Regions from separate parts of the Homo sapiens genome. Here region 1 is linked to region 2. Evidence: fine-mapped expression QTL. A gene starts in region 2. The other region holds a variant in brackets. All regions are shown on one strand. Distances are between the middles of the regions.

Region 1 (15,302 bases), 85 kb after region 2:
GACATCATGTTTTCCTTTATATTTCAACTAGTGAAACGTGTTCCTGGAGCTTCTGAATATCCTGTCAAAGACTTGAGTACCCCTCCAAATTCTTTGGGAAGTGGAGGAAATGTGGGGCCTGCAACCAGCCCTGCCAGAAGCAGTGACATGTTATATCTGATCGTTGGCTGTGTGCTGGGCGTCATGGTCCTCATTCTGATGGTTTTCATTGCAATGTGCCTGTGGAAGAATCGCCAGCAGAATACCATACAAAGTAAGTCACTCATAAATATCTCCTTCTCTTTTTCTAAAGGTGGGTAGACAAATATTGTCAGAATAAATATTGATTTCTAACACTGTTGTATATTAGTGTCATGGTATGAAACACATTAGATACTCTTCATTCAGAGGAGATGACTTTAAAACTGTTCTAGCTGTCAGCCAGAGTAAGTGGAGCATCAAATTAAATTGCCCAGCAGACATAAACACCAAAGCCAAAACTAAGCAGGTCTCTAAGTAAATAGCTGACTTATTGCTGGGAAACTCCGGCTTTGTTGGACCACCAAAGAGGACGCATATTTGAAGCCTGAGCTCTGGAATTGCTGTAGGAACACCTTTACACTGGTACAGAGCTTGTCAACAGGGAATAGAAAAGCCATGATGGAAAGCAGGTAGTGAAAACTTGTCTAAGTCACTGTCACTGAATGACACTTCACCGATGAGGATAACGCAGCCCTGTTTCTGTACCTGATGGACTCAAGACTGCTCCAGCATGGCGTCCTCTCCCTGGAGTGTGTCTAGGAATACGTGTGCTTGAACATCGATGATGGCCCTGCTTTGAAATAACAGTGAAGTAACCTAGAACCCCCTTTCTCTTTTCTCTTCCTTCAGTTCTCTTCACCTCACTGTCCTACTTTTCCTGTTATCTCAGCTATTATAAAATAGGGTAATCAAATCAAGCAGAGAGTTTAGTCTTTGGTGGGAGGAAGTTTTTTGGTTTCCCCTTTGGCTCCAGAATAAGGAAATGAAAGAAAAGTGAGGGAGGACCCCAGCAGGCACTTCCAGTGGCTGTTAGCCAGTTCTCACGCATGCTCCCCTTTTAGTTACCAGTTCTGGGGGAAGAAAGTACTCTGTTTGTATTGAATGATGCCTTCCAAGAGATAGGGGGAGAGATGGTGGCTGCATCAGGCTGAAATGGATGGTGATCATTTGATTTTCTAAGTGGTTTTAATGCCATCGCCTTTAATTGTGTGAGTGCGTGTTGAATCATGAAAAGAGAAGTATTAATCTGAAAGGGATGGTGATCATTTGATTTTCTAAATGGTTTTAATGCCATTGCCTTTAATTGTGTGAGTGCGTGTTGAATCATTAAAAGAGAACATTAATCTGGTCGTCCCAGCCATATTAATCAGATTAAAGTCATCCTACTTTGTGACCTGATAATGTTTAAAAATGGAAAATTCTCATGGTGGTGTTCATTCAGTCATTTATTCAAAAGATAATCATCGTCTTCTGTATACCAGGCACTGTTCTGGACAGTGGAGATGTAATGGTAAATAAAATAAACACCACCTCTGCCCTCTCAAAGTGTGTAGCTTAGTGAGACCACAAGCAGGTGTACTGAGACTACACACCTGGGCGAGAGCACACAGTAATGTGGGCAGCTAAGGAAAGGAGGGACACCTAATCCAGCCTTGGCAAGCTCTCCTACCTTCGAAGAATTTATCCAGACTCCAACAACAAATCCTGTACAGTTTGGACACTCTAGTTTCTAAGAGATACTTTACTTTTTCTAAATATATCTGGTAGATGTGCCTCTGGAAATCAGTTTTGAGGCAGTCATTTGTATGCTTTTAATAGAAGAAAATAGAAGGCTGGGCGGAGTGGCTCACGCCTGTAATCATAGCACTTTGGGAAGCCGAGGTGGGCGGATCACGAGGTCAGGAGATCGAAACCAACCTGGCTAGCACGGTGAAACCCTGTCTCTACTAAAAATACAAAGAATTAGCCGGATGTGGTGGCACGCACAAGCTACTTGGGAGGTTGAAGCAGGAGAATTGCTTGAACCCGGGAGGCAGAGGTTGCAGTGAGCCAAGATCACGCCATTGCACTCCAGCCTGGGCAACAAGAGCGAAACTCCATCTCAAAAAAAAAAAAAAAAAAAAAAAAAAAAAAGAAAATAGAATCACTTTTTGCCTTTGGTACTCCACACCTTCCAAATTGGCTGTAATGACTAAGGAGCTATATGAATGATCAGTGACTGTATATACAACTCCATCCTTTTACTTAACAGAGTTGTTTATTGCTACTTGAAATACCCCACCTAAAGCTAGTCTTTTGTTGTCATTTTATGCAGTTTTTTTCAGCACTTAGAAGTATAATATATAGGAGTTTAAGCACTTTTTCCTAGTATTGCCAGTACTCTGATAGTTTCAGCTTGCCCAATATATTCATTCTCTTTTGAGTAATTTCTCCCTAGGTGATTTTTCTTCCCGTTAACAGAATCATAATTAACTCAGAGTTCACAGCTATCTCTACACTCTATGGAAAATAATAGCAGTAACTTTATTAAAGCATGTCTTACAAGTAGGCTTTAAGTGAACATTTTAAAAATGTTTTTATTTTAGTCTATTTGTAGTTTCGTAGGGGTTTTATCTGTAAGACCTTCTCAGCAAGAAGATTGTCCTTTTTAGTGTCTTACTGTGTGCGTGTGTGCGTGTGTGCGTATGTGCATGTGTGCATGCGTGTGTGCGTATGTGCATGTGTGCGTGCGTGTGTGTGTGTGCGTGTGTGTCTTTTTTGTTCTCTTTTAACAGAATATGACCCACCAGGATATCTCTACCAAGGATCAGATATGAACGGGCAGATGGTGGACTACACCACTCTCTCAGGAGCAAGTCAGATAAATGGAAATGTTCACGGAGGCTTCCTAACCAATGGCGGTCTCAGCAGTGGCTATTCCCACCTTCACCATAAGGTCCCCAATGCAGTCAATGGAATTGTGAATGGGAGCCTAAATGGAGGGCTTTACTCCGGGCACAGCAACTCTCTAACCAGGACACACGTGGATTTTGAACATCCTCATCATCTAGTGAATGTAAGAGACCTAACTATAAATAAAAGCCCCTCTGTCCCTCAGGGTGCCAAGTACTAGAACAGGGACAGCATGCTTGGCTTTGTTCAGTATAGAAACCTCACAAGTTTCCTCGAATGGAAACAGCATGGATCACTGGCAGCCCTTTGATCCAGAGTAGTCTTTGTAAGTTGTTTTCTATTGCCAGGTAATAGTTATGTTCATCAGTTTAGTTTCATTTTAAAATTATTTAACACTGAAAGTGGAATACCAGCAGTGAACAGACTGGAAGTTGTTCTTTAGATGAAATGGAAATACCAAATACTTTAAATTTGATTTATCGAGAGCAGGGTCTTGAAAATGCAAATGCCGAAAAGAGTCAGGCAGATCAGGAAATTGTGGGAGTGAGATGGTAGCACTGGAGGCGATGGCCACCTGGAGAGCACAGACAGTGTCTTCAGGAAGCAGCCGCGGTTTGACACTTACAGTCGTCATGGACTGAGGGCGCAGTGTTGCCAAATTTTCTGATTTTTCAAAACCTCTGTAAATCCAAGTGAAATTGACAGATTTTTACATGCTGGCACCTAATTCAAATTTTTGAAAACATACGTAGGCCATGCCAAACATCTCTGCAGGCCACCGGGTTGTGACTTCTGACCTTTCATGGGCTTCTTTTGTTTGTTTTGCCCAATATGTTTTGTTGTTGTGGCTGGTAAGCTTTTTACATTTTACAATGTTAGTATTCTTTAGCCACACAAAGAGTGATAAACCCTTAAGACAACCTTATTTCAGAGATAACTAGTTGATAGCGTTTAATTTTTGAAATGGTAGTAGAATGACTAGCATATTTTAGACTTACGTGGGGTTCTCTGCACTAGAAAGTTTGATTTATGACATTGTTTGGATGCACATCTATATTACTTTTGATCAAATAGATAATTTGTTTAATTGATGGAATTAAGCATTCAGTTTTTGTCATTGTTCTGATTACAAATAAATTTACCATGACCCACAATGTGCTACAATTTGAAGAAGCTTAGAGTTTTTTTTCCCCCCATCTTCAGTTTATTAAAGATTTATTAAAATCTATTTGGAGAACAAAACTAATATATACTCATATTTTAAAGCTAGAAATTGAATAGCTTTTATGTGACCTAGCTTTTGTATGTTGTGGAAGAAATATTAATTTGCTTTAATGCATCTCATTACTAAAAGAGAATCATGATTTCACTATTTTGTGTGGAAAGATACAGCATGTATTCAGACTTTCTAAGCTTTTTTGGTCACCATTCCTAGTCCAAACTACTACCATTGTCCAAGAAAACTGAAGGAGAGAGCATTAACATTTGAATAGCACACACTGTTTCCATAAGAAGAAAACATAAGGCCCATGTTCGCTTTAGTGTTTGAACACGGAACCTTGGGTTTTTTGAACAATGAATTTCTATTTAAATAATAGGTGCCCCATTTGGTGTACAATGTCAGAAGTTATCTGTGATTCTAAATTATTCGTTTTCTTACTTTTCTGGGTGGGGGAAATAGAGAAATTTTAACAGTGTTAGTGACCCTAAAAATCATTGCACTAACTTCAACGTGTTGAGGGATTCAGAGAATCCGTAAGTCACAACGTTACCCTGCAGGTTGTGAACTTCATTTTCTGAGCCTTTCAGGTTTTCCCTCAGATGGAATATAGTATAGGAGAGTTCTTTCTCTCGATATGTTCTTAATAATTCCTGTTGCTGGTTGGATCAGAAACACTGAAGGAAATTTTCAGGACTTTTGGTTTGCTTAGATTCTGGCTACTGTTATGAAATGAATGGAAATGGAAAGTATTCTAGGAAAAACAATTGCCTGAACTTTTCCTAACCTTGAAGGCCTGCTTTGGGTTTGGGTGCAGTGTGACAGCCTCTCCCACCTTTTATCAAATTCAGTTCTGCTGTTTTTCTTCTGAAAGCAGAATTCTGCCTCTGACTATCAGGCTAGTTTAATTTTTAACTTCATTTTTGAAGAACCTTGCTGTCTGTCAAGTGAACATTTTACAATGAGGTATGTGTTAATCTGGGCATTTTTCTTAATTGCTGGGCAGTTTCCGCCAAAAGCAACATCCAAATATTAACACACCCCCTCCAAGTCATTGCTGGCTGAAGATCTACTCCATCTGGAAAAATATAGCATGCTTTAAAACTTAGCGTTGTCAAGTGAACAGACCTAATTGAAATAATTACAGGAAAATGAAGATGAGTTTATCATGTGACATCATCTACACAGGTTTTACACCCTGTTTCTCCAACTGGTATCACATGAAATTCTTCCCTGACTGCCAAGAAAGGGAAAATGAATGGAGGCTATAACATATAATGTATTTTGAGCCCACTAGATTTGAAGGGAAGTGACTAAACTTTTCCCTTCATTTATTTACCTTTGTCTAGTACAGAAATACGTAGGAAAACATGGCAGTGAAGTTTTTGGAATACAGTTAAATCTAATGCAGAACTCTCATTCACTCCTTTGTGAATATGGGTCAGTGATATTCACAATGACGTTGCTCTGGGAGTTGGTTAGAATATACTGTGTGCCCATTTATGGTTGACATGGCTCATGTGTATTTGTGATTATTTGGCTACTGGTCTGTGAGTACCTTCAGCATTCCTTCTTCTTTTCTTTTTCTCTGACACTCCTTCCTGTCCAGGGTGGTGGAATGTACACGGCCGTGCCTCAGATTGACCCTCTGGAGTGTGTTAACTGCCGAAATTGTCGAAACAACAATAGGTATGTTAATAATGTGTCTGCACAAGCTGTTGTGAATAAGGCATATGCATCCTTTTATTTTTCCCTTCAGCAAAGAAAGTTCTTGGAATTTTACCTAGGATATAAAGTTCAGGATTTGCAATCTTAAATTTAAAGCTGTTACTAATTTTTTGCCTCTGCTTTCCAATTTTTGTCTTTTTGTGCCTCGGTTTCTTCAGCTATATAGAAACCATCTTAAAGGCTCTATTTGTCACTGAAATATTATTATAAGGCTTAATGTTTTTGAAAATTTTAAATTAGAGTCATTCTCTGTTATAAAGACTTTATCTTTTCTCACCTTTTATTTTCTACTCTATGTTATGGGATGTTATGAGGATGAATGACAGTGTTTCTGAGTGTTGGGGGGAGGGGGGAACCCTCTGTATATAGTAATTTTTTTCACAGTAATGTTACTGAAATTTTCCTACCAGATTATCCAGTGTTTTTTTTTAATTCTTAAAATCTTAAGAAAATTAAGCAGCAAACCCTTGCTTTGAATTTTGTGTTTTAATTTTAAAAGTGGTATGTACTCACAATATTTCAAACAAGATAGAAATATGGAGAGCAATGTGCATTTAACACATAGGATACTCGGCACACTTTCCTACGACCTCTCTCTATGGTAATCCCAAGGATTACCAAGCTTTTTGTTGTATTAAAGTTGTTTCAGAAATCTTAGTTCTTTCTTTTACATAATGATGTTATTGAATTACATGGTGTCAAAAGTCCTTCCTTCTCAGTCCTAAAACTCTACAACCAAAAAGATTATGTCATAGTTAGTACATAAAATAACTGGAGTATGGGTGGGAGTTTAGATATTTTATTATTGAAATGATGTTTGACCTATATATTTAAAATGGATTAACAGGTTAAGAGTTGTCTCTGGGAGTTATTGAAACCAGAACTTGAAGAAGGATCAGGCCAACCATCAAATTAAAAATACGTTGTTCCAGCCTGTGTTTTGAGAGTTGCAGAACAAAAGCAACAGAGCTTCTTGGAGATTGTTTGTTATCATTTACTTAACCCATTTCAGGGTGTCTATAAAAGAGCCATCTGCTTCTTTTATGTACTAAGGTTTGCTTGTTACGTATTTAAATTCTATATGACCCTGGTTTTGCAAATGTTCATAACATTGAAACCACATTTTTGTCTTGAGCTTTTCATGGACTTTACCGTAGTTTGTTAGGCAACGTGCTAAAGACCTGGTAAAGGTGGTTCATGTACCTGGCGAGTAATCAGACGGATTTAGTTACAAGTGGTCTTGCTTAAAATTTTAACGTGTTTTCTTTTGTGGTTCTTGGTCATCAGCAGATCTTGGTTCTCCTGGACAATAGAATGGTATAACGACAGGATCTCTGGTCTAAGAATAAGTAGACCTGGGCTGTGACATAGCTTAAACCTGTGATCTTGCGAAAGTAACGTAATGTTTCTGAAGCTATTTCCTTAACTAAAAAGGGGAAAATTGTCCTAGGTAATGTAAGATTGCTCCCAACATAATCTGACGGTAGTCTCTGGCAATTTCCTGCCAATCATGTCTTTTTGATGAAGTATCATCTTAATATCAAGAATGCATCCCATTTCCTTAGAAGGACTTATATGACCTCTGCCATTTAAATGACCTTGGCTTTGTGGCTATTTGTATGTGTAGTGTGTGTGTGTGTGTGTGTTTGTGTGTGTGTGTGCATGTGTGTGTATGTAGTATTTTAGTATTTTCAAGTTTTTATTATACAGTTTTTTTTTCCTTTAAGACAATGAACAATTGTATTTCTATTAATTTTCAAGTTAATGACTTACTACATTTCATGTGTGTGGGTTTTACTGTTATCTGGGAATTTAGGTGAATTCTCTTCAGCTTGGAACACCAGATTCTTTTTCTTCCTGGTTTCAATTTTCTTCCTCATGAGAATCTGCCTGTTTAGTGCAAGTCTTTACTTGCCTGCATTGCCTTCAAGGTTAGCCAGTGTCTCACCTGGCTCCCAGGAGCAACTGTATGATTTTGACACTCAATAATTGGACAGATAAGTATCAATAAGTACCTACCTTCAGCTCTAGAAAATTTGAATTATTAAATTTAAAGATTTTAAGTCTTTTCACTTTGGAATTGAGAACAGGTATCTCCTCTTAAGATCTTACAAATGACAAAATTTGTAAAAAGCTGTGAATGCCGAAAGGTAGATGATACGTGGTTTACTCTCAAAATATAGAAAATTATAGTCAATTTATGCTTTTAGAATATCGACATTGTTACTATGAATGAGTTTGCATTTCTGAATATCAGCTGAAATAGTGTAAACATAAAAAGAAGCGTGATTTCAGTTAAGTTATATGAGGGCTATCAAGTGGGCCTCATATGATTTTTGGCTGTTCAGTCAAACAAAACAAAACAAACATTTACTGAGCACTACCCAGGCTCTGGACTAGGTTCTGAGGTGTTTCCCCGTAGAAGGAATGTAAGAACAGTCATGGACGTAGAAAGGATAATGTTTACATAAGAATGAATAGGCGACTTCAGTGGTTCTCAAACTTTAGCG[T/G]GCATCACTTGAAACACTTAATAAAAACGCACATTACTAGGCTCTACTCCCACTCCTATTCTTAGACCAGAGTTTCCCATTCAGCAGGTCTAGGGTGGGGCCTGAGAATTTGCATTTCTAATGAGTTCGCAGATGGTACTGATGCCCATGGTCCTGGGACCATGCTTTGAGAACCGCTGGAATAATTTGATCGGCTGTGAAGTGCAACTAGAGAATAGTAGGATATTGAAATTGGACAACTGGACTGAGTTTATATAGTGGATAACCCTGAATGTGAAGGTTTAGTAGTTTATTTAATAAACAAGTCCTATTACTTAATAATAGTCCTATTAAATATTATTTATTAAATAAGCAAGTTTATTTAATAAACAAGGCCTTTTATTGAGTGCCTGTCATGTACTGGGTACTGGCCTAGGCCCTGCCTTCAGAGAGTCCATAGTCTAACAATAGTGATTCTCAGACAGAGGTAGGGATATAGTGAGTAGAGTTTGAAGAAGCACGTTGAGTTTTATAATTTTATATTTAAAGAATAGAAAAAAATCTCTATGTCTGTAATGTCTATGTATACAAGGGTATGCAATTTTTATATTAATCAAAAGGGGATATGCGTTAAATGTTGAGAAACACTGGGGTAGCAGCATCATAATTGTTGCAAAGCTTATTGAGAACAGGAATGATCTGTTCAGAGATATGCTCAGGCTGGATGAAAGATGGCAGTGCACAGGAGGGAAGGGAGGGAGGGGATCAGTGAGACATGGGGAATGGGGATGAAGAGGAAGGGATGAGTGAGACTGCAGACATGGAGTCTTCAGGACTTGGCCATTGACTGACAGGGATCTAGAAAAACAGAAGATTCCAGATGTGTAAGAAGTTTCAAACATGGATGATCTGGGTGGTAGTCATAGTAATAAGAAACTTAATAAAATGATACATCATAAAAAGGTGATAAATTTGGTTTTAGAGTTGAAGTATGAGTTGATATCTTAAGGAGAAAGATGAAAATGCTGGTCTTGGCTTCAGGGGGTAGAATGGAACTGTGATACAGATTTAGGACCATTTTAAGTTCTATCCAAGTAATAGAACTTAAAAACAGATGAGACACCAAAGGAGACAATATCCTTGGCAGATTGATTATTTTTATATATTTAATTATTTGATGCATTTATTTGCTTTTATTATGTATTTAAAGTGATTAGACATTCTTTTTATAAGACATCATATCTTTTGTTATTTTTTCTTACTGCCTTAATACATCTTCAGAGAATAACAGAGATGGGAAAAGGAGAATGATAAAATAAGGAGAGTAAAAAAGAAAAAAAGAATTCCCTCCCTCCCTCCCTCCCTCCCTCCCTCCCTCCCTCCCTTCCTTCCTTCCTTCCTTCCTTCCTACCTACCTACCTACCTACCTACCTACAAATGTTTGCTGCAGGTCTCTAGTGAGCCAAGCACCAAACTAGGTACTGGGGATATGGCAGTGAGCATAACAGGCATTGCTCCTGCCTGCGTGGAGCTTAGAGTTTAATAGGGGAGACATATCTTTTAAGAAAATGACATAAATCGGCGGGGTGCAGTGGCTCACGCCTGTAATCCCAGCACTTTGGGAGGCTATGGCGGGCGGATCACCTGAGGTCAGGAGTTTGAGACCAACCTGGCCAATGTGGTGAAACCCCATCTCTACTAAAAATACAAAAATTAGCTGGGCATGGTGGCAAGTGTCTGTAATCCCAGCTACACCGGAGGATGAAGCAGAAGAATCACTTGAACCCGGGAGGCAGAGGTTGCAATGAGCCAAGATCACGCCACTGCACTCCAGGCTGGGCAACAAGAGCGAAACTCTGTCTCAAAAGAAAAAAAAAATGACATAAATAATAAAAATGAATATGTAATTAAATCTGGATGCTTTAAAGGAAAAGTAAAGAATGTGGGAGAGAGGAAAGCCCTCTGTAAGCAAGTGGCATTTTGCTGAGCTCTGAAGATTTATAAAATTAGGTCTAAGGGAAGGAAATAAGTTTAGAGCTTTCCAGGCAAAGGGGACCATTTATACACAATCTCTAAAACAGAATGCCTGAATCCTCAAAGAACTTAAAGAAGGCCAACATAGCAGAAACCTAGTAACTGGAGGAGTCAGAATTAAAAGGCGAGTGAAATCAGATCACACAGAGCCATGGCACATCTGTGGATGGTTTTAAGCAGGAATTCGTTTTTGTTTTTGTTTTTGTTTTCTGAGATGGAGTCTCACTCTGTTGCCCAGGCTGGAGTGCAGTGGCACGATCTTGGCTCACTGCAACCTCCACCTCCCGGGTTCAAGCAATTCTCTGCCTCAGCCTCCCAAGTAGCTGGGATTACAGGTGCCCGCCACCACGCCCGGCTAATTTTTTGCATTTTTAGTAGAGACGGGGTTTCACCATGTCAGTCAGGCTGATCTTGAACTCCTAACCTCATGATCCACCCGTCTTGGCCTCCCAAAGTGCTGGGATTACAGGCATGAGCCACCATGCCCAGCTGAATTTGGGTTTTTAAAGAACACTCTGGATGCAGTTTGGAGACTAAATTGGATGGGGCAGGAGAGGATACCTGGAGACCAGTTAGATGGCAGTTGCAGTAGTCCAGATGAGAAACAGTAGACTAGCATAGTTGTAGGGAGAGAAAGAGAAGAATTTTGAGAGAATTAGGATTTAGAAGGAGATGAGTCTGAATGAGTCTGAGGGATTTAAAAAAAAAAAAAAAAAAAAAAAAGACCAAGTAATTGGTTGAAGAGGCCAGTGGAGGAAGCAGTTGAAGATGATGTCTAGGTGTCTGGGCGCAGTCACTGAGGCAGAGAACACTGCAGGAGATGAAGAGGAGCTGCCCCACAGTATACTTCTGGAGAGTTGTCCTCTGAGATCTGGTGGTGCCTCTGCAATTCGCCTTCTTTATTCCACAGATACTGAGAACTGGAGAAGTCTTGCATGGGGCCTTTTCCGTACGGACTCTTACCTGCTCTGTGCCCTGCCACTCCAGGTTCTTTTTTCTCTGCCTTCTCAGTTGTAAACTTAAGCATATTTCTTGGAGTGAGCTTTTAAGAAACATTGCCAACCCTTGACCCCTTTTATCACCCATCTATTTTAGTAATAACCATCTGGAGGGAAAACGTTGCCTCTATTATGTAAATGAGAGTATGATGTGAAAAGTTGAGAGCAGGTGAGGGGAGGGTGCACTGTATAGATCTGTGGGGAAGTTGTAGTTGATTCTGGGGCTCTTGTGACATGCTGTAAATGACCGCTTGCCTCACTGGGTTCCATGACCTTGAATCCTTTTTAGTTTCTTTTGATTTTCTTTTGTTTTTTTTGAGACAGAGTCTCACTCCAGTACCCAGGCTGGAGTGCAGTGGTGTAGTCTTGGCTCACTGCAACGCCGCTTCCTGGGTTCAAGCGATTCTCATGCCTCAGCCTCCTTAGTAGCTGGAATTACAGGCGTGTGGCACCATGGCTGGCTAATTTTTTTGTATTTTTAGTAGAGACGGAGTTTTGCCATGTTGGCTAGGCTGGTCTCGCACTCCTGGCCTCATGTGATCTGCCCGCCTCGGCCTCCCAATGTTCTGAGATTACAGGCGCGAGCTACCGCGCCTGACCCCTTTGCAGTTTTTAAGAGTAATATGTAAAGCTCACTATGAATGCCTAGAAAGAAGCATATTTAAGGCAGCTTTGCAGAGAGCCAGTTCCTTACACCAGAGACCTAATCAAGAAATCCTTGTGCCATTTGGGCATTTCAAGAGTTAAATGGATTTTAATCAAAAAACATCGAAAGCTTTCTACCCTTCTCTTCTCTTCTCCTGAATTCAAAAGGCAGTAATGCAGTTCTGGATATGTAATTAAATGTGGCTTATCAGTTGCTTGGCTAGTTTAATGGAAAGGGATTGGCATTAAATCTGGTCTTTTTTAGCATCAGCCTTGATAATTTGTAAGAGAGAGTAGAGAGGACACTGATGAAATTCACAGATGAACGGACCGAGAGACCCCATCAGGAAGGAATGAGAAATTAACTCGAAGGGTCGTAGAGAGACTGGAGATGGACAGGAAGTCTCCCAGCGAAAATCAGCTTGGAAAAATTATATAATTCATCTGGGAAAAAAAGTACAAATTACATGGCTGATAGTCAAGAGAAGTAGTAAAACTACTGGGAACGGTGCTTTAGAGAACAGAGATACTACAAATGACTTCAGAGTTTTGTATAATGACAACCTTAAAAGTCTGTGTGTTGGATTTGGGAATGCTCTTTCACCAACTTGAAACCCTCCGTGGATGTCAGATGTCCTCCGATGACAACAACATGTAGAGATGAATATGAGAACATTAATTATTATTATTTATTTATTTATTTATTTATTTATTTAGAGACAGAGTCTCGCTGTGTCGCCCAGGCTGGAGTGCAGTGGTGCGATCTCGGCTCACTGCAAGCTCCACCTCCCAGGTTCACGCCATTCTCCTGCCTCAGCCTCCTGAGTTGCTGGGACTACAAGTGCCCGCCACCACACCCAGCTAATTTTTTATGTTTTTAGTAGAGATGGGGTTTCACTGTGTTAGCCAGGATGGTCTTGGTCTCCTGACCTCGTGATCCGCCCGCCTTGGCCCCCCAAAGTACTGGGATTACAGGCGTGAGCCACCGGAGAACGTTAATTATCATAGCAGTTCTTTCAGGCCTAAGGTTTGATCTACCCAGTTGGTTTGCTAAGTATTAAAACAACAAGTTGTCCAGTTCACCTGAGCTTTTTCTTCCAGCAGAAAACAGGCATTCAGCTTCTCTTCCATCTATGGTAATCTCCCTATTTCCCTAAGAAATTCAGAGTGCTGTGTTGAATTTTAAAAATTGATCAGTGCTTTCCTTTTGGGGAAGTTATATATCTCCCCAAGTCTGTCTCGTACTTCTAAGATGGAGACCTAGCGCCTGTTGTCAGGGAGTCCAGCTTTTTGTCTTTCTTTATAAGCTCGTGTGTGTCTGTCAACTTGCCATGTTCAGGAATACACTCAGTCATTTGTTGTCACTCAACATTTACTGTCATGTTTTATGTGACAGCTGCTGATAGATTAATTCCCAAAAGGAAACTCCCACTCTAATGCTGCGGTCATCGCAGCATCCAACAGAGCAGATATCGAGAAGGGAAGACGGCCATGGCCCTGGAGCGGTGCCATCAGGGTTCTTTAGGTAGTAACTGATAAGCTCCCGAAAATAAGAGCTGGGTCAGCAAAATGACACAGTGACTAGTGGAAACAGCAGAGGTGAGTGGAATTTTAACATAAACTACTGGCCGGGTGCGGTGGCTCACGTCTGTAATCCCAGCACTTTGGGAGACTGAAGCAGGCAGATCACGAGGTCAGAAGTTCGAGACCAGCCTGACCAACATGGTGAAACCCCATCTCTACTAAAAAAACAAAAATCAGCCAGGCGTGGTGGCGCGCGCCTGTAATCTCAGCTACTCTGGAGCCTGAGGCAGGAGAATTGCTTGAATCCGGGAGGCAGAGGTTGCGGTGAGTCGAGATCGCGCCACTGCACTCCAGCCTGGCGACAGAGCAAGACTCTGTCTCAAAAAAAAAAAAAAAAAAAAACATAAACTACCACCAAGATGTAACTATTTCCGAAGTCTCAAGAATATATGCATGAGAACAAGTATCACACATCCAAGAAATTCACGGATAGTTCTTTCCCTCTAGGCATAATCAAAAGAGGAAACTTAATGCAAAAATTATATAGTCATCTAATCAGAGTAATTCTGTACATAATCATGCTTAACAAATATTCAACTGTGTAATCAGAAGTGGAATACTTCGAATACATTCTAGAAAATATTTCAGAGGTGCTGTATAGTTTTACAAGAATATTCTTCCAAGCACAATCCTACACTACTCTTCCAATCTTCTATTTCCTAGTCTGCTATTCAGAGTGTTGCTTAAAGAATATTTTATTATTTTTTGTGATACCACAATAGTCATTTTCCTATCTTTCAGATTGGTCAGACAGGCCTTTCCTGTGTTACTAAAAGGTATCTTAGTAAACTAACAGGTCCCAGACCACCTGAGGTTTTACAAAACAGCTTAGATTTTTGTATGTAGCAAGATGCATAGAGCTCCATTTACTCAATGTTTTTAAACTTAAGATTAAACAAAGTAGTTTCATTGAGCTAGAGAAAACTCAGTAAAAACTTTTATTCCACCTTAAGCCAGTAATAACTGCATTTGAAAGACCATTTGAGAAGCCTAAGATAGTGAAGTTACAAACTATTTGCATTATATAAACTGTAAAATGTGCATTGTGAGAGCATTTTATTGAATGTCATATGTTTGCAGACATTTGTCCTGTTTTCTTATTTACTACCTTAGATTTGTCTCTTAAGTTTACATATGTACAGATATGATTTTTGTGATCATCTAATTGCTTTGGAAATTTTAACTAAAGCATTATTAGTAAAATATTTGTTTTCACGGTCCAGGCGTGGTGGCTCACGCCTGTAATCCCAGCACTTTGGGAGACTAAGGCAGGCGGATCACCTGAGGTCGGGAGTTCAAGACCAGCCTGACCAACATGGAGAAACCCTGTCTCTACTAAAAATACAAAATTAGCTGGGCATGGTGGCGCATGCCTGTAATCCCAGCTACTCGGGAGGCTGAGGCAGGAGAATCACTTGAACCTGGGAGGCGGAGGTTGCAGTGAGCTGAGATCACGCCATTGCACTCCAGCCTGGGCAATGAGAGCAAAACTTCATCGCAATGATAATAATAATAATAGTTTTCATATATCATGTCTGGTTATATTCAGAACAGACTATGTTCCTTTTTAGCAGATGATGTTCTTTATGCCTGTATCTCAACATGTAACCCCTAAGTTAAAGCCATTTTTATGCTGACACATGTAGACATCTGGAATTGAACTAAAAGTAATTTAACTGAATCATTTACATT
Region 2 (15,302 bases):
TCTTTTATAATTTTTGTAGAGACAGAGTTTCACCATGTTGTACTGGCTGGTTTTGAACTCCTGGGCTCAAGCAATCCATCTGCCTTGGCCTCTCAAAGTGCCGGGATTACAGTTGTGAGCTACCACACCCAGCCAAGATGTTTTTAATACAGGTATTTCCTTGTATGTCTTTAATTTTGTGCTTTATACTTAAAAGGTGCTCAACAAAGTTTTTTCTTTTTTTCAGTTTATTTATTGAAACTTTACACATACACTGTTTGGCTGTAGAATTCTAAAATCATATTTTCCAAAATGTTTTTTTTTTTTTTTTTTGAGACGGAGTCTCGCTCTGTCGCCCAGGCCGCACCGCGGACTGCAGTGGCGCAATCTCGGCTCACTGCAAGCTCCGCTTCCCGGGTTCACGCCATTCTCCTGCCTCAGCCTCCCGAGTAGCTGGGACTACAGGCGCCCGCCACCGCGCCCGGCTAATTTTTTGTATTTTTAGTAGAGACGGGGTTTCACCTTGTTAGCCAGGATGGTCTCGATCTCCTGACCTCATGATCCACCCGCCTCGGCCTCCCAAAGTGCTGGGATTACAGGCGTGAGCCACCGCGCCCGGCCTCCAAAATGTTTTTAACCCAAATTGCAGAATGATTATAGCAAAGGAATACATAAGTCATTCAATTTGCTTCTCAATGTGTTAAACACAGAGAATTATTTGCTCATTTGGTAAACATTACCTCATCCGCTTCTTCACCTTCTTCATCATAAACATCATCATCAACTTCAATAGCTTCTCCAGTAAAGTATGACACTGCTCTTGGGATTATACGCTCACGTAAAAAGTGACCTATTTTGAAGTCTGTGCAAGGATTTCAGCATCATCATCCAGATCTCCACTCTCAGGAACTTCAGGAGGGGCAAACAAATTAAAGAGTCATTGGAAACTGTGTTAGTCACAGTATGAACTGTCCCACTTCCCTTGTGTTTCTGCTTCTTCTTAATGGTTTTCAAAGTGACATTCTTTCCTTTTTTCCAATCTATCTGGCACCCTGTGCAACCCATAATTTCTGGTCCATCAAAAGAAAAGGGATCAGAATCATCTGGTTCTGACCTCATCCTGTATGTCTTTGACAGCATTTCATTTGTAAAATATTCATTGGGTTCAAAGTGAAATTCTAAGACAAAATTCATAGGCTGGTCAGCATCTGAGAGCTTCACTTTAGTATCTTTCAAGTGTTTCAGAATAGGTTCATCATGTTGTTGAACCATATCACTGAACAAGTCAACATTCTTAGAAACAGTTAACCAAAATTCAGGAATTTCTTTGGGGTCTTCTTTTTCTTCATCCTTTTTCTCATCTTCGATCTTGGCCTTTTCTTTCAACTCCTCTGAAATCTCATCTTCTTTATCTGGTTACCATTCACATTGTTCTTCTGTGGGTTCATAAATTTCATTAATAATCTCAAATCGCTTATCAAATAGAGGCTGATAGAGAACAGCATATTCCTTTCAAGATCGTGAACTTCCTCATAGAATTTGGTTTCTATCTGTGCACATTTAATTTAACTTGCAGGTTTTTGAGAGCATTCACTCGTCTTTTAACTACCCTAGGCAGGCTTTCAGTGTATCCTGTTGGTGTTTCTACCAGAACATCAAGTCTTTCTTGAAGGACTGCAAGAATCTGAGGACTTTGCATTATCTGAACAGTTAGCTGATGTGCTTTGATTTTTGTTTCTTCACCAGTTTCTTCTTCATGTACTTCTTCAACATCATCCAAATCTCGATCAAGTTCAGATTGTCAGTGTCTGCCATGTTATAAGAACTCCAAATATCGGCAGCTAGTATGGGAAGCCAGGAGGCCTGAGCTGCGCAGGCAGTGACTCAGGGCGGCAGTGGCGGCAGGAGGAGCAGGAGGCGGCACTGCGAGCAAATGGTGCTAAAAAAGAACAGATCAGTTTAACTGATCAATTTATTTGAAGTGATATTAATAAAAATACTTCCCATTATTGTAGGGAGACATTAATGTGTAATAATTAAGAGTCCAGCCTCTAGACACAGATTACCTGAGTTTTAATATGAGCTCTGACACTGACTAGCCGTGTGACTATGGTCAAGGCACTTCATGTCTCAGTTTTCTCATTTGTAATTTGGGACTAATGCTTAAAATAATACTTGGTGCACAGAAGGAACTATATAAGCATTAACTATTATTATTATAAATAGCTTTTATTTATGTTAAAAACACTTTTATCCAGTGTTTGCTACTTGCCAATCACTGTATTAAGTGCTTTGTGTGTATCATCTCAATTAATCCTCCTAGCAAACCACTGAAGTAGGTCCTATTAACAACTCTATATGAGGTATTATTACTCTTTACAAATGATGAAGTCATTTACAACTTTACAAATGATGAAATCAAGACTCCAAGAGTTTAAGTTATTTGACCAAGATCAAATAAGGTACAGTCAGAATGTGATACAAGTTTATGGACTCTAGTTACTCTATTATGTTATTCTTGGAGAACCATTTTTGTTTTTGTTTTTGAGATGGCGTCTTGCTCTGTCGCCCAGGCTGGAGTGCAGTGATGGGATCTCGGCTCACTGCAAGCTCCGCCTCCTGGGTTCATGCCATTCTCCTGCCTCAGCCTCCCGAGTAGCTGGGACTGTAGGCACCCACCATCACGCCTGGCTGATTGTTTGTATTTTTAGTACAGACGGGGTTTCACCATGTCAGCCAGGATGGTCTTGATCTCCTGACCTCATGATCTGCCCGCCTCGGCCTCTCAAAGTGCTGGGATTACAGGTGTGAGCCACCGCGCCCGGCCTTGGAGAACCAATTTTAACATGTATTGAGTATTATAAAAGCACCCACTTCAGGCCTGGAATGTATTAAATGTCACTTAGTATCTAACAACCTTCCCACCTCATCCCTGAGGACTTGAGTACTTGGCTCATGGTATTTCATTTATCAGCCTCTCAGTTCCTTCAATATGTCCCCTGACGGCATAAATCATCCACATCGTCCACCAGCACCGGTAAACATACTAGATCTAATCATTACTTGGAACTGTTCTACTTCTGAAATGGTAAACTCTGGTTATTACCAAAGACTTCTTGGTTCTTTCTTACTCAATCCTGTAACAACAGCTCTTTAATGTCATACATATCTCCTTTTCTTTAATTTGTAATTTTTCCAGTCTATTATTCTTCTCAAACCTCTTACACCTTTTCCACTGCCTGGATTCTATGATTGCTGTTTTAAAAATTTTCTTACCAATACCGTGTGTTATTTTCCTTCTTGTACAACTTCCAGAAAAACTTCAAAATTGGGTTGGTGTTATGCTTTTCCCCTTCTACCTGACTGATTAAATTTTGATGGAGAAAACCACATAATCATGCAAGCTCCATCACCATACATTAATGGTCTCCAACCTCAGCCAGGCCCTCAGCATCACTTATCAATTCTCTGAGTGATTTTCTACTTTCATTTTTCAACTCTCATTTTTCCTAATGACTATTCCAAACCTTCACCACCTTCTTCAAGCATCCTTTTCAAGTCCCATACCTTGAGTTCAGTAAACAGCCTTTGCTCCAAATTCATCAAGATAATTGGGGGCTTTAGTTATTGGAGTTTTAGAGATCCATCCTTGGCTACAACTTTCTGGTTCCATATTATTCCTGAGAGATCGCTTCCACTTTAATGGTATAAACACTACTTTATGCTGATGACGTTTAAATCCGTATTTCCACTTGGAGTTCTCTACATAGTGGACATCTGTGGTTGGAGGCCCCATAGTGTCTTAGTCTGTTTCTGCTGCTATAACAAAATGCCTTAGATTGGGTACTCTTTAAGCAACAGAAATTTATTTCTCATAGTTATGGAGGTTGGGAAATCCAAGATCAAGGTGCCTGCAGATTCAGGGTCTGGTAAGTGCCTACTCCTTACAGATGATGACCTCTCTGTGTCCTCCCACGGCAGAAGGGACAGAAGGGGCTAGCTAGCTCCTTGAAGCCCTTTTATAAGGTCATGAATCTTGCTCATGAGGGTGGTCCTCATGACTTAGTCAGCTTCTAAAGTCTCCACCTCTTAATACTATCACCTCTTAATACTATCACCTCTTAATACTATCACCTCTTAATACTATCACCTCTTAATACTATCACCTCTTAATACTATCACCTCTTAATACTATCACCTCTTAATACTATCACCTCTTAATACTATCACCTCTTAATACTATCACCTCTTAATACTATCACCTCTTAATACTATCACCTCTTAATACTATCACCTCTTAATACTATACTCAATACTATACTGACCTTGTGTTCACACAGCTCCCTGTTCATTGCACTGAAGATGTCTCCTTGTACTTACCCACGTGTGTGTCTGTATCACAGTTAGACTGTGAGCTCTTTGAAGCTTGGGACTGCACATTGTTTCTTAATGTTGAACAAATGGATGAATGATTCATTAATGAAAAACTGTTTTACACCTGAAATGATTTCTCTGCTTTACAAAAAAAGGGGGAGAGGAAGTAATTAATATCAACAAACATTGTGATTTTTTTCTTAGTCTGACTATGAGTAACAGTAGGCATAGTGAATTCAAATGGCACTGTGAGATCTGGAGGTGCACAAAGTGCATTATGTCCCAGGAGAAGAACCTGGAATTCTCTGTAGCCACAATAAATTTGCAAGACTTCTATTAACATCCACACAAAACTCTCATTTCAGTTAAATCCTCTATAGAAAGACTTACTTGCCGAATGAAAAATCGTTTACCATAGCTTGTTAATAACATATAGATTCTTGGTCTCCAAAAGTGAACAATAGAACAGTGGAGGACAAACTAGAGTTAAGAGTTTTTTTCTGGCTGGGTGTGGTGGCTCACGCCTGTAATCCCAGCACTTTGGGAGGCCAAGGCGGGAGAATCATCTGAGGTCAGGAGTTCAAGACCAACCTGGCCAACATGGCAAAACCCCGTTTCTACTGAAAATACAAAAATTAGCCGGGTGTGGTGGCACGTGCTGTAATCCCAGCTACTTGGGAGGCTGAGGCAGGAGAATCGCTTGCACTCGGGAGGCGGAGGTTGCAGTGAGCCAAGATCGCACCATTGCACTCCAGCCTGGGCAACAAGAGCACCCCAGCCTGGGCGACAGAGTGAGACTCCGTCTTAAGAAAAAAAATTGTGTTTTTTTTTTCCGTCCTGTACTGACTTTCTTTCCAGGGGCTTTACAAAAACCCTGAATCTAGCTAATGCAGAAAGCTAACCTGCTTGAACAATACCACACTTTCAAAGCATTTCTTTTTAAAATTCACGTAAGAAGGTAAGGGAGGACTGGCATATTTCTCCTGAAGTTCAGTACTGAGTATTTATAAACTTAACTATTATTAGGGATCCTTTTGTAGTTAAGCTAATAGTAAGTAATGATGATGGGGAAAAAAAAGAGCTAACTGCTAATAATAACAATTTATAAAGAAGTTACAGTCCTTGAATGCCCACTGAGTGGCAGGTGCTTTTCACAAAGTATCGTATTTACGCTTCACAGCAACATTTTGAATAGAAATTTATTTTTCCTTTTTCTGTTTGAACAACTGAAGTTCATTGAGTTCAGATAACTTGGGGCAGGTCCAACGGACGAGTTGGAAAGACTCTGGGGCCAAAGGCTCACACCACGCCTCTCCTAGCCCCTGAGTTTTGCTACCTGCTTGCGTTTATGTGCAGGCAGGGCGGGTGGGTGGTGGTGGGGGAATCAGATGAAGCTGCCTAAGGAATTAAACATGGAAAGTGGTGGAAAGGCGAAGGAGGTATAAGCGGTGGGCCGCTGGAACCCTAAGAGAGACCAGGCAAGAACCGGGAGAAGGGATGCACCCGTTGGCGGCTCAGAGAACTTAGGTAGAGGCGAGGGGCGGGGCGGGGCGAGGGGCGGGGCCTGAACGAGGCTAGGGCGGGGCCCGAACGAGGCTAGGGCGGGGCCCGAACGAGGCTAGGGCGGGGCCTCGGGGGACAGAGTCGACCATTTGGAGACCTGCCAGAAGAGCCGTCTCTCCAAGGGAATGAAAGGTGAGGGGAGCGTGAGTGCAGGCATGATGGGAATCTCCGTGACTTGGTAAGGCAACTCACCCTTACCTGTCCTACACCCAAGAAAAGCCTCTTCTATGCTCCCCTGGGGTATCTCTCTTGCAGAGTAGGCAGGTCAATGACGAGGAGAGGGTCCTGCCCAGAGCGTGCCCCCCTCCGTCACTTGGTACGGCCCGTGCCCCCGCCGCTGATCTGGCAGGCTGCGCGCGCACACTCCGGCCGGGTGCGGGCCGGCGGGGCACAGCGGCCTCTACGGCCCGCCTCCGTCAGTCATTCCCCGGTCCCTCCTCCCGCTGCTCGCGTGCTCCGGGCCGGCCCAGCACCCTCCGAGTTACGTGCCCGCGCTCCCCGGCGGGGAGGAGCGCAGCCGCGGGGGCGCGCCCCGGTGACTCCGCCCCTCAGCTCCCCTCCCCTGAGCCCGGGAGCCCGGCTCGCGCGGCTAGGTGCGAGGAGACCCGGGACCCCACGCCCGCCCGCCCTGCCCAGCGCCCCAGCCCCGGCGTGCGAGGCGCCGCTCCCTCCTCTGCCCTGCGCGGTGCATGGAGGGGCCCGTTCGGATCGCAGCCGCCGCCACCGTAGCCGCCGCCGCGCGCGCGCGGGGGGATGACCTGGGGGTGGCTTTCCGAGCCGGCTGCAGCGCAGGAGGTCTGGAGGCTTAGCCAGCCCCGCGGAGAGGTGCGGGGGTGGGGGTCCCGCCGCAGGGTCGGAGGGAGGGGTGGCGCGCGGGCACTGGGCTTGGGGGGCCTTGGCTTAGGGGACGGGAGGTCCCGGGGACGGGCGGGCCGGCGTTCCCTGGAGGGCGTGGGGGTGCAGGGCTGCGTGCGGGGTCTGGATGCTGATGCTTGCCCGGCGGGGAGCCCCGGCGTTCCGCGTCCTCGGGGGCTCGGAGGCACCTCGCGGGAGGAGGCGGGGTGAGGTGTCAGTGACACGACGAAACCTCTTCTTGACGATGGTCCTCGGGGGCAGGTGAGATGCCGCAGAGCGGGGAGCTAGGGCGCCCGCGCGTTTTCCCAAGGGAGCCGGGTCCCTGGCCTCTCTCAATCTCCATCCCTGCAGAGCGCCCGCGAGAGACAGTGATTTATGTGTAGGGAGAAGCAAGAGAAATTTCCTGCACAATGTATCTTTCTCTGCCTTCACAAGACTCACTGACTTCCCAGCCCCAGGGAGTGTATTTTTCCTTCTCCTCTGTAAAGCTTTCTGTGGATTGCATTATCATTTGCTAAATACATTACAGCTCGCTATTTATTTCAGTCGGCAGCTTCCAGACCTTTGTTGCTTTCTCTCCACATCTAGGAATTTCAGCAATAAATCACTGAGGGGGATAGATAGACTCTCTTGCCCTTCCCTTCATTGTTCTCCCTAACCCCACCAAATCAGGTGGAAGGCTCTCCAAAAGGAGCTGTTTCCAGAATGCCTGCCCTTCCTCATCAGGACGACAGAGGGTGGCAGGTGCTTTAAGGGCAGACTGCTTTCCAGTGGGAATCCAGAATTTAGAGAACCTCATCAACAGAAAGTCAGCCTTTGTGTCCCAAACCAGACACCTTGAAAAACAGGAGGTTGGACTAAAAGCTCACATGAGATTTATTTTCAGGCCTATGCCAGTAAAGATGAAAGACGCCAAGTCAGTGAATTCTGATTCCTTTCGGCGCTGATAACATAACCCTCAAATTCCCAACTGACACTTGGCATACCTAGTGGACAGTGTCTCCAAGGAGAGGAAGGTGGGGAGGGTGTTAGAAAATGAAATGAGTTTATTGTCAGCATAATTCTAAACATTCTATGACATTTTGTAGTTCTCCCCCACCCTCAGTCTATTTTTAGCTGAAAATTTGGGGATAGTTCAACTTTTAAGATAAGATGAAAGAAAACCTTCAAAAAATTTTCTGGAAATTTTAAATTAGTGCTTAACTAGAAAGCATTCTTTGGAACCCGAGAAGCACCAAATACTGCAGTCTCTGTTATGCACATGTTGGAATGAACTGCCTCATACTTGAAGTTATATGAGAAGGATGGAGAAAACCTGTTTCATTTTGTAAAGACGTGCCCTGGGTGTGTGTTTGGCAGTGTGTAGAACAGAAACATTTATATTTCTATTAAGAAACACACAAATGTATACTGTTTAACTTTCATGCAAAAACTTCCCAGTGTTTGGGAAATCTGTCTTTGTTTGAATAGTTTAGTCAGCCAGGAGAATCAGTTACTAGAGGTACTGTGCTGTTGTTTGTGTAATAACTCACTTGGGATGCTTTGATTGATTGCCATGGTTCTCATCAGCCTCCTCTTCTGTGCAAAGTACTTAAACAGCTCTGACTCTCAAGCCTTCAAGTACAAAGAACCCTTAGGACTTGGATACTGATCTAGCTTGTGTAGCTTGGCTTCTAAATCTAGCTTACGCCTTGCTTTCTTTGCAGGTGGTTTGACTTTGCAGGAAAAGAATTAAGTTCACTTTAAGATAGGACTTTCTCCTCCAGATCGTCAGGGTATATACAGCTGAAGGCAGTAGGTAGGAATAGGAACTAATGTCCTAGGGCTTTGTTCTAAAGAGAGCAGGTAAAAATTTGTTGACTATTTCTTGGGCTTGCTTCTTATTTTCCCACTTCGCCCATCTGCCTTCATGACTTTGTAGACAATTTCATGTATGGTTTTGTCGAAATGTAAGTTGAAGTAAAATTTTCCTTCTGTAGAATTTTTTTTTTTCCACGAACGTTTAGACTAAAAATTGGTGATTGTTTCGAAGTTAAATACTAGGGAAATGATTTCAGGAATTAAATATTATCGTAGTAAAAATCAGGGAAGCGTTAGAAAATAAATAATGAGTTGAAAAATGTGTTGCTTTAACGTGTAATGATATGAGCCAGCGCCTTGTGATCAGCTATGGCATGATGTAGAAGTATGGGTAAGACAATACAGTGGAGCTGTAGATGAGCTGCGTACATGGTAGCCCCCCTTTAAGTAAATGAACTTAATACAAACTAATTAGATTAGAAACAGAATTTGGAGTATGGTTGCCAAATATTTTGAGTTGAAGGACTTGCTTTTTTACAGTATTTTTTAATGGGGAATTTTTTCAAGAAATTTCGTGAACTTGAATTTGAGAATGTTTTATTTTTACTTAAATTTTTATATTGTATGTAATCATTCCATGTGATAAGTTTTTGTTGTGTATTTGGCACTAACTCACTTTCAACAGCACAGGGGAGGGCTTTACTTGATTCTTTTTTGTTAAAAAGAAGGGATGGTGTATGGAATATTCTTAATGTCACTTGAAAAATATTGGATTACAATTAAATGAAAAACTGGTTTCTTGGTTTTTTTTTTTTTAATCCTTCAAGTTTTCCCTCATTGCTTGTGCTCTTTCCCCCATTGTCAGGCTTAAAACATACAGTATCATTGTCATCTGTCTCCTGAATAATGGTCCTGAGGTGATATTATTAATGTGGCTTTTTAAAATCAAGCTAATTATACTTGCCTAAAAGAGCCACATGTGTGTGATTCTAGCTGCCTGGTGCCTTTTGAGAGCCCTGGAGACAAGCTAGTGAATAGAGCTGAAAATTCATTCTGTATTTGATTAAATGGAACAGACTCGCTGCTCCTTACCCCAGCGGGGGCTATGAGATCTCTTGATCCCCGAAGCGGCTCCAAGACCCTGGGAATTCCATTAGCGAGCACCTGAGGAATTTCTGCCCTGCAGTGCCTTTTTTGTATGTGTGTATGTGTGTGTGTGCAGAGGGAGTGGAGCAGAGCGGGGATTGGGGGGATGCGGGCAGGGGGGGTTGAGGGGGTGGAGGGAAGGCTACATTAGAAGACTCCATATGTTGGCAGATCTAAAATCAAGGCATGACTTAACAGCTTATCTTGTAAGAGAAAAGCCCAACCCAAAGGCAGATTGCTAGTCCGGACTTTATTACAAGCAGGACTACAGTGATGTGTTTTCAGCACTGAAGTGAACTCCAGTGTAAGTACAGAAAGTGGCTTCTCTGCTTTCCCTCCGAAGCACAAGCATATACACGTTGCAGACTTGGTAAGTTTTCTTTGAATGATCTTTTGATAAATATGTAAAATTATCTTACTGTTTGGTCTTGCCTGTAAAGGCTGATGTATCGTTTTAATAACTTTCAAACTGAGAGCAAAATCAGACTTCATGTGAAACAAATGGTTTTGCAGTGATGAAATGCTTGTTTTAATAGGCATATTTTAGTTTACTATTGATAGAATTTGATTGTTTCTGTTACATTATTATTATTATAGAATTCTAATTTAGATTATGTCTTTTCTGTTGTCTTTTTAAGAATTGTATCATTTCTAGTGTTTCTGAGGCATTACTTTGCAGACTTGCTAGCAGCGCCAAGTAAATGAAAATCTATCTGCCAAAAACATTCTGTAAAATCTTTGGAGCAAAATTTTTGAGAAACATTAGTGTGTCTTCCTTCCCAAGTCCCTTTTCCCCTGCCTCAAATAATGTTTGGGCACAAACTTTTTTTCAGAATATTAGCCCAGTTTGTTTCTTGTGTACTTTTCAAGGAAGACCAGTTCTGAATGGTGGATGGTGTAGTTAATTGGTTTTCATCTACCAAGAATGTGAATTCCAATGCTCCTGGTTTTCAGCTAATGCAGAATGCAGTAGCATATTTGATGGTTCATTTGATATATTTTGTTTCCAAGTAAAGTCGTGTTGTAAATAGTGCACAGTCTTTTCCGTCCTACTCCCATGTAGCCCTCTACCAAGTTCTCCTCACAATACAGTGTGTTCAGAAAATAAAGAAGCCTTTTTGAAGATATGTTTAGCTTTTTTCCACCTTAATCCTGGGCATTTCTCCTACTACTATGGCCAGATTGAAAGGACCCTTGAATGAATTGGAGTAAACACTGCAGTTTGTGCCTGTCCGCATTCACAGCTGTTTAGTCGCTTTGCTGTGCGGTATATTTTGATGGCCAGAGAGAATAAAAAAACTAGCCCAAAGAACATTTTGTTCTGCTGTATATCTGTTGGAATGTGAGTAGGGACTCCAGTGCTTAAGAGCCACTGATGTGCCTTTCATCTTACTCGAGAAAAAATATATGGGTTATATTACTGAACTTAGCTTACATATTTTGTTTATGTTTTGTTACTTGGAACTGTGAGGCCAATTTTATTTTTATGTTACCCTAATACAAACAGAGAATTTGGACGCTGACATAGAGCTTGCTTTTCAGCTATTCTTGTTGTAGACCAGCTCACTTCTTGTTATTTATGTGAGCCTGGGCAATGATCTTGACTTAAGCCTTGGGGGTCTTTGTCTGTAAAATGGGTATAATAACAGAAATTATGTCTTACCATTGTTGTGGGATTAAATGAGATAATGAAAGTCAAGCACTTGGCATATAGTAAAACCTCTGTAAATGTTAGCTGCTGTTATTTTTATTAACTCCTCCTGTATATGTAAGTGTACATGTATTTCTCAGAAGCTAGTAATAGTGCGGGCACGTGAAACAATACAGCTTTCTTAAATTTGCAGCTGAAACTTAGAAGGCACTTGGACATTGTGTGTAATTTTTTTCCAGTTGAGGTGTAACATAGTAATATCACAAGTGTACAGCTAATGTATACTAAGTGAACAGCTAGATGAATTGTTACATATGCACATGTCTGTGGTAACCAGTACCCAGATGGAGATATAGAACATTTCCTTGGCCTTAGAAAGCTCCCTGGTGCCCATCCCAGGCAGCCCTCCCTCTTGCTAGCAGGCAGCAGCTATTCTGAAGAGTTGGAATAGATGAGTTTTGCCTGTTCGTGAACTGTATGAACATGGACTCCTACAGTATGTAGTCTTATGTTGGAGTTCTTGCACTGCTCAATAATGAGCATTGTAATAGACATAAGCCTGTGAGATTTATTCATGTTATTGAATAACATTTATTTATGTATACAGTACTAATTCATGCTTTGTAAATTGTTGTAGAGTCTTTTGTGCGGTTTGAAATTCATAATAATTCATTTTATTGGCACATTGGATACACAGTCTTTGGGGGAAAAAAGAAAATAACACTTCTTCCTACATTACTAGAAAATCAGATCCCAATGGCTATCTTAGGAAAACAACCATGACCTCATTTTTATTCACAGAACTGGGTTTATTCACTACTTGAAGGTATAATTACCTTCAGTTACAATTCCATAAACCAAATACTTTGAAAACTGTATTCATTTTTATGTGTGTGTTTTTAGGAGGGAGCCTCAAAATAGGGGAAAAGGACCATCTAAGGTAGCTTATATCCTTCATGCTTAGGACTAAATGCCGTAATCAACACTTAGCGTTGTACAGAAGTAACCACCAGTCCAGCATTAGTATAATATTCTTTGAGTTTAAAATGAAACAGTACAATGCTTTTCTGAAGAAAAAAGAAAAGTCCACCATAAAAGGAAGAAAGTGGAGCTAGGATGTTATACTGCAGGAAGATTTTGAGGAACAGGACCAAGCACTTATATCAGGAAGAAGAGTTTTGGCCACTAACCTATTAACAATTGTGGTCAGGCTATGCCTATACATTCAGAATTTGTTTGTATTGTTGAAATTCTCTAATATGCTAAATAAAATTTATTTCACAGACAGACAAGATGATTCAGTAGATGAAATCAGAAGGGTTTTTGTTTGTTTGTTTTAAATTTTGGAAGGGACTTTGGCTGTGGTTAATAGCTTGTATTTCTGTTATTGGAAATGTTGATTAAGGATTTTGTGGGTGTTCTGCTTGAACACTAGCCATTTTTCTCTCAGGAGACATTGTATTTTTCAACATTTATAATTTTATTAAATCTGACTATTCATAGCTCTTGACACAAGGTCATTCTTCACATACAGCCATATGCAGGATGGGTTCCTCTGGACTGGAGAAGGGCAAATTGTCCCCTTTTCTTCCTAAATCAGACCATCCGTGGTCAGGATTTCATTGGGGGTTGGGAGCGTTGAAATAGTGATACATGATTCATCTTTTGATCTATAGGCGTCCTCAAAGATGCAGATTATGTTTCAGAAGAAAGAAGAACTATCCAACAAATAGAGCTGCCTCATGTGAAGCAGTGCTGTTTGGAAGGGGCATGGACTCCTGATTCCTGGAAGTGTTGTAATGGCATTTGCAAAGGCTGCTGTGGGAAGAATCTCTTTCTTGGGTGCAACATTGAACCAAATAACCTCTAAGGCATTTGTAGGACTGAGGTTCCATGAAATAGGCTTTTATGGTATGCCTAGGCTACATACCCACCACGTACATGATTTTGGAGGTAGGAAATATGTTAAAAGTTACCAACAGCCATTGGATAAATACATTTTTTAAACCAGCTCCAGTTTAAAGTTGGAGATTGCCTCGACTTGCTGGCTCTTTTCACTTTAAATGTAATCCTTAGTTTATCACTAACAAGTAAATGTCGGGTATTCTTTCTTCCTTACTTAAATAGGGACTTTTTCAATATTCTAAGTGTATTGGTATCAGAAATGATAATACTTAAAAGTATAGCATGTACTACCTTTTTATATAGGTACACATCTGAAGCCATTTGTTGGCCCAGTTATTTATTCATTCCTACAACAAATTATATGTAAACATTAATAAATGTCCCTCTTGTCCCTCCTCCACTGCAACTTTTCTAAACTTGAGTTACAAGAGAGATAAATAACTCATATAGGAGGAGAAAGGCCGGTATCAGAGACGTGTCCAAGTATCAAAACCATATTCAAGATCTTTTCTGGGATCCATAGATATTTAACCATGTACACATCTTGTATCTGTAAATATAGTACTTTATGTTAATCACTGATATTTAAAATGATGGAAGGAACTGTGGGATCCTGAACCACCAAAATAATATTTTCTCCATTTTATAAAACAGAAAAGTATATTGAATTTTTACTGTTTTATATTTATGTATGCCCATCCATACCAATTCCATCCTCCCTGTAGCTTAGAAGTGGGCCTTCTTTATCTCTTGTCTGTTACCATTACCTTACCCCTCCATCCTCCTCCTCAAACTTTGGGAGAGGGACAGAGGAGATTCAGCATGTGAGATGAAAAAAATGCCTTTGCAACTCCTGCTTAAACTGCTACTAACTCATCCCCTTGTCTTCAGTTTTGGTTTGCCCCCTTCCAGATCATTGATTTTTCTTACATTTTGCCTGAGTAATGATCTTTCTGAAATGTAAATATGTGATCACGTGACTGCTTTCATTAAAATCCTTTAAAGTCCCTGAATTGCTCACTTGTTGAAGCCCAGGTCTTTAATTGGATGTACAGGGTTATATGCCTACTGGAAGCTTCTGCCATCCCGGCTGCTTTGCCTTCCATGAATATACCATGCTTTCTCGCAGGCTGGAAACGCATCTCTCCTGGCACTGATACGTATCATAATTGCATACGTGTCAGTCTCCCCTTTATTCCTTAAGGACAATGTGATTTTCCCCTATGTACCATTGGCCCACCCACCCCTTTCTTTGCACTCTGCTGAACAAGTACTAAACACTCAGATATCCTGGATGGCATTAACGTGCATTTGAATTTCTGGGTGAGCGAGTGTGTTCAACTGCATATTCTGATTCAGTAGGTCTGGGGTGGGGCCCAATATTCTTCCTTTCTAACAAGTTTCCAGATAATACTGATGAGCTGGGTGGAGCACACTGAGTAGAAAGATGCTGAACCATCTTCTCTAGATCCATGAATGATTTCAACACACGATTTTGCTCGTAAAAATTCAGTGACATCAATGACTCTCAAGTTCAGGGAGTGATACCACAGCTTCAAGTAATGAAGATAAACGAAAGCTTTAGATAAAGAAAAAAACAGTTACATATTGAAGATGCTGGGACATGCATTATCACACTATGACTGGAATCCTTGTCAAATATTTTGAATATTTTAACAATTTTATATATTTAAAATGTATGTAGTAGTTCTGTGCAACATTATTCAGTGCCCAGAGAGCTGATGTCATGTTTTGTCTTTTTGTATTTTGCAGGGGTTCTCCTGGGTATATAGGTACTAAAAAACATATTCAGGATTGTGTCTCTTGCCAGGGAAATTTCTGACAGTTACTGGCTTTTTACAGTATCAGAATAAAAGTAATTAGAATTTTTTATTTTACTGTAGTTTGGTATCTGTTCAGTGAGTAATTGTACACACTGCCTGGTTAGAGGTAAAATTGGCAAGGGGAACGAATGTTTAATGGATAAAATACTGCTTTTATCAGGCCATGAAATTATTGTAGTGACATC

Alleles and levels. Alleles are on the strand shown, and positions count from the first base shown. SD is a standard deviation of normalised expression in the study named.
In carriers of allele G in region 1, the expression in subcutaneous fat of the gene that starts at base 6,454 in region 2 tends to be higher than with T alone (small effect, 0.30 SD a copy in GTEx).

What was found.
Region 1: its variant is fine-mapped to the expression of CDON in subcutaneous fat (GTEx, PIP 0.96). The same link has a PIP of 0.9 or more in sun-exposed skin.

Annotation. Positions count from the first base shown.
Region 1 is chr11:125,968,823-125,984,124 of GRCh38, reverse strand. CDON (cell adhesion associated, oncogene regulated) reads left to right here. Exons shown (of 20, transcript NM_001378964.1): 16 at 32-253; 17 at 2,796-3,076; 18 at 5,742-5,821. Among named protein-coding and RNA genes, the nearest start is that of VSIG10L2, 30 kb to the right of the region's middle. The variant T/G (reference allele first, on the strand shown) is at 8,371.
Region 2 is chr11:126,054,018-126,069,319 of GRCh38, reverse strand. It overlaps CDON (cell adhesion associated, oncogene regulated), which reads left to right and starts at 6,454. Exons shown (of 20, transcript NM_001378964.1): 1 at 6,454-6,741. It also overlaps the pseudogene NAP1L1P1. RefSeq lists silencers at 5,867-5,956, 6,027-6,696 and an enhancer at 8,897-12,160.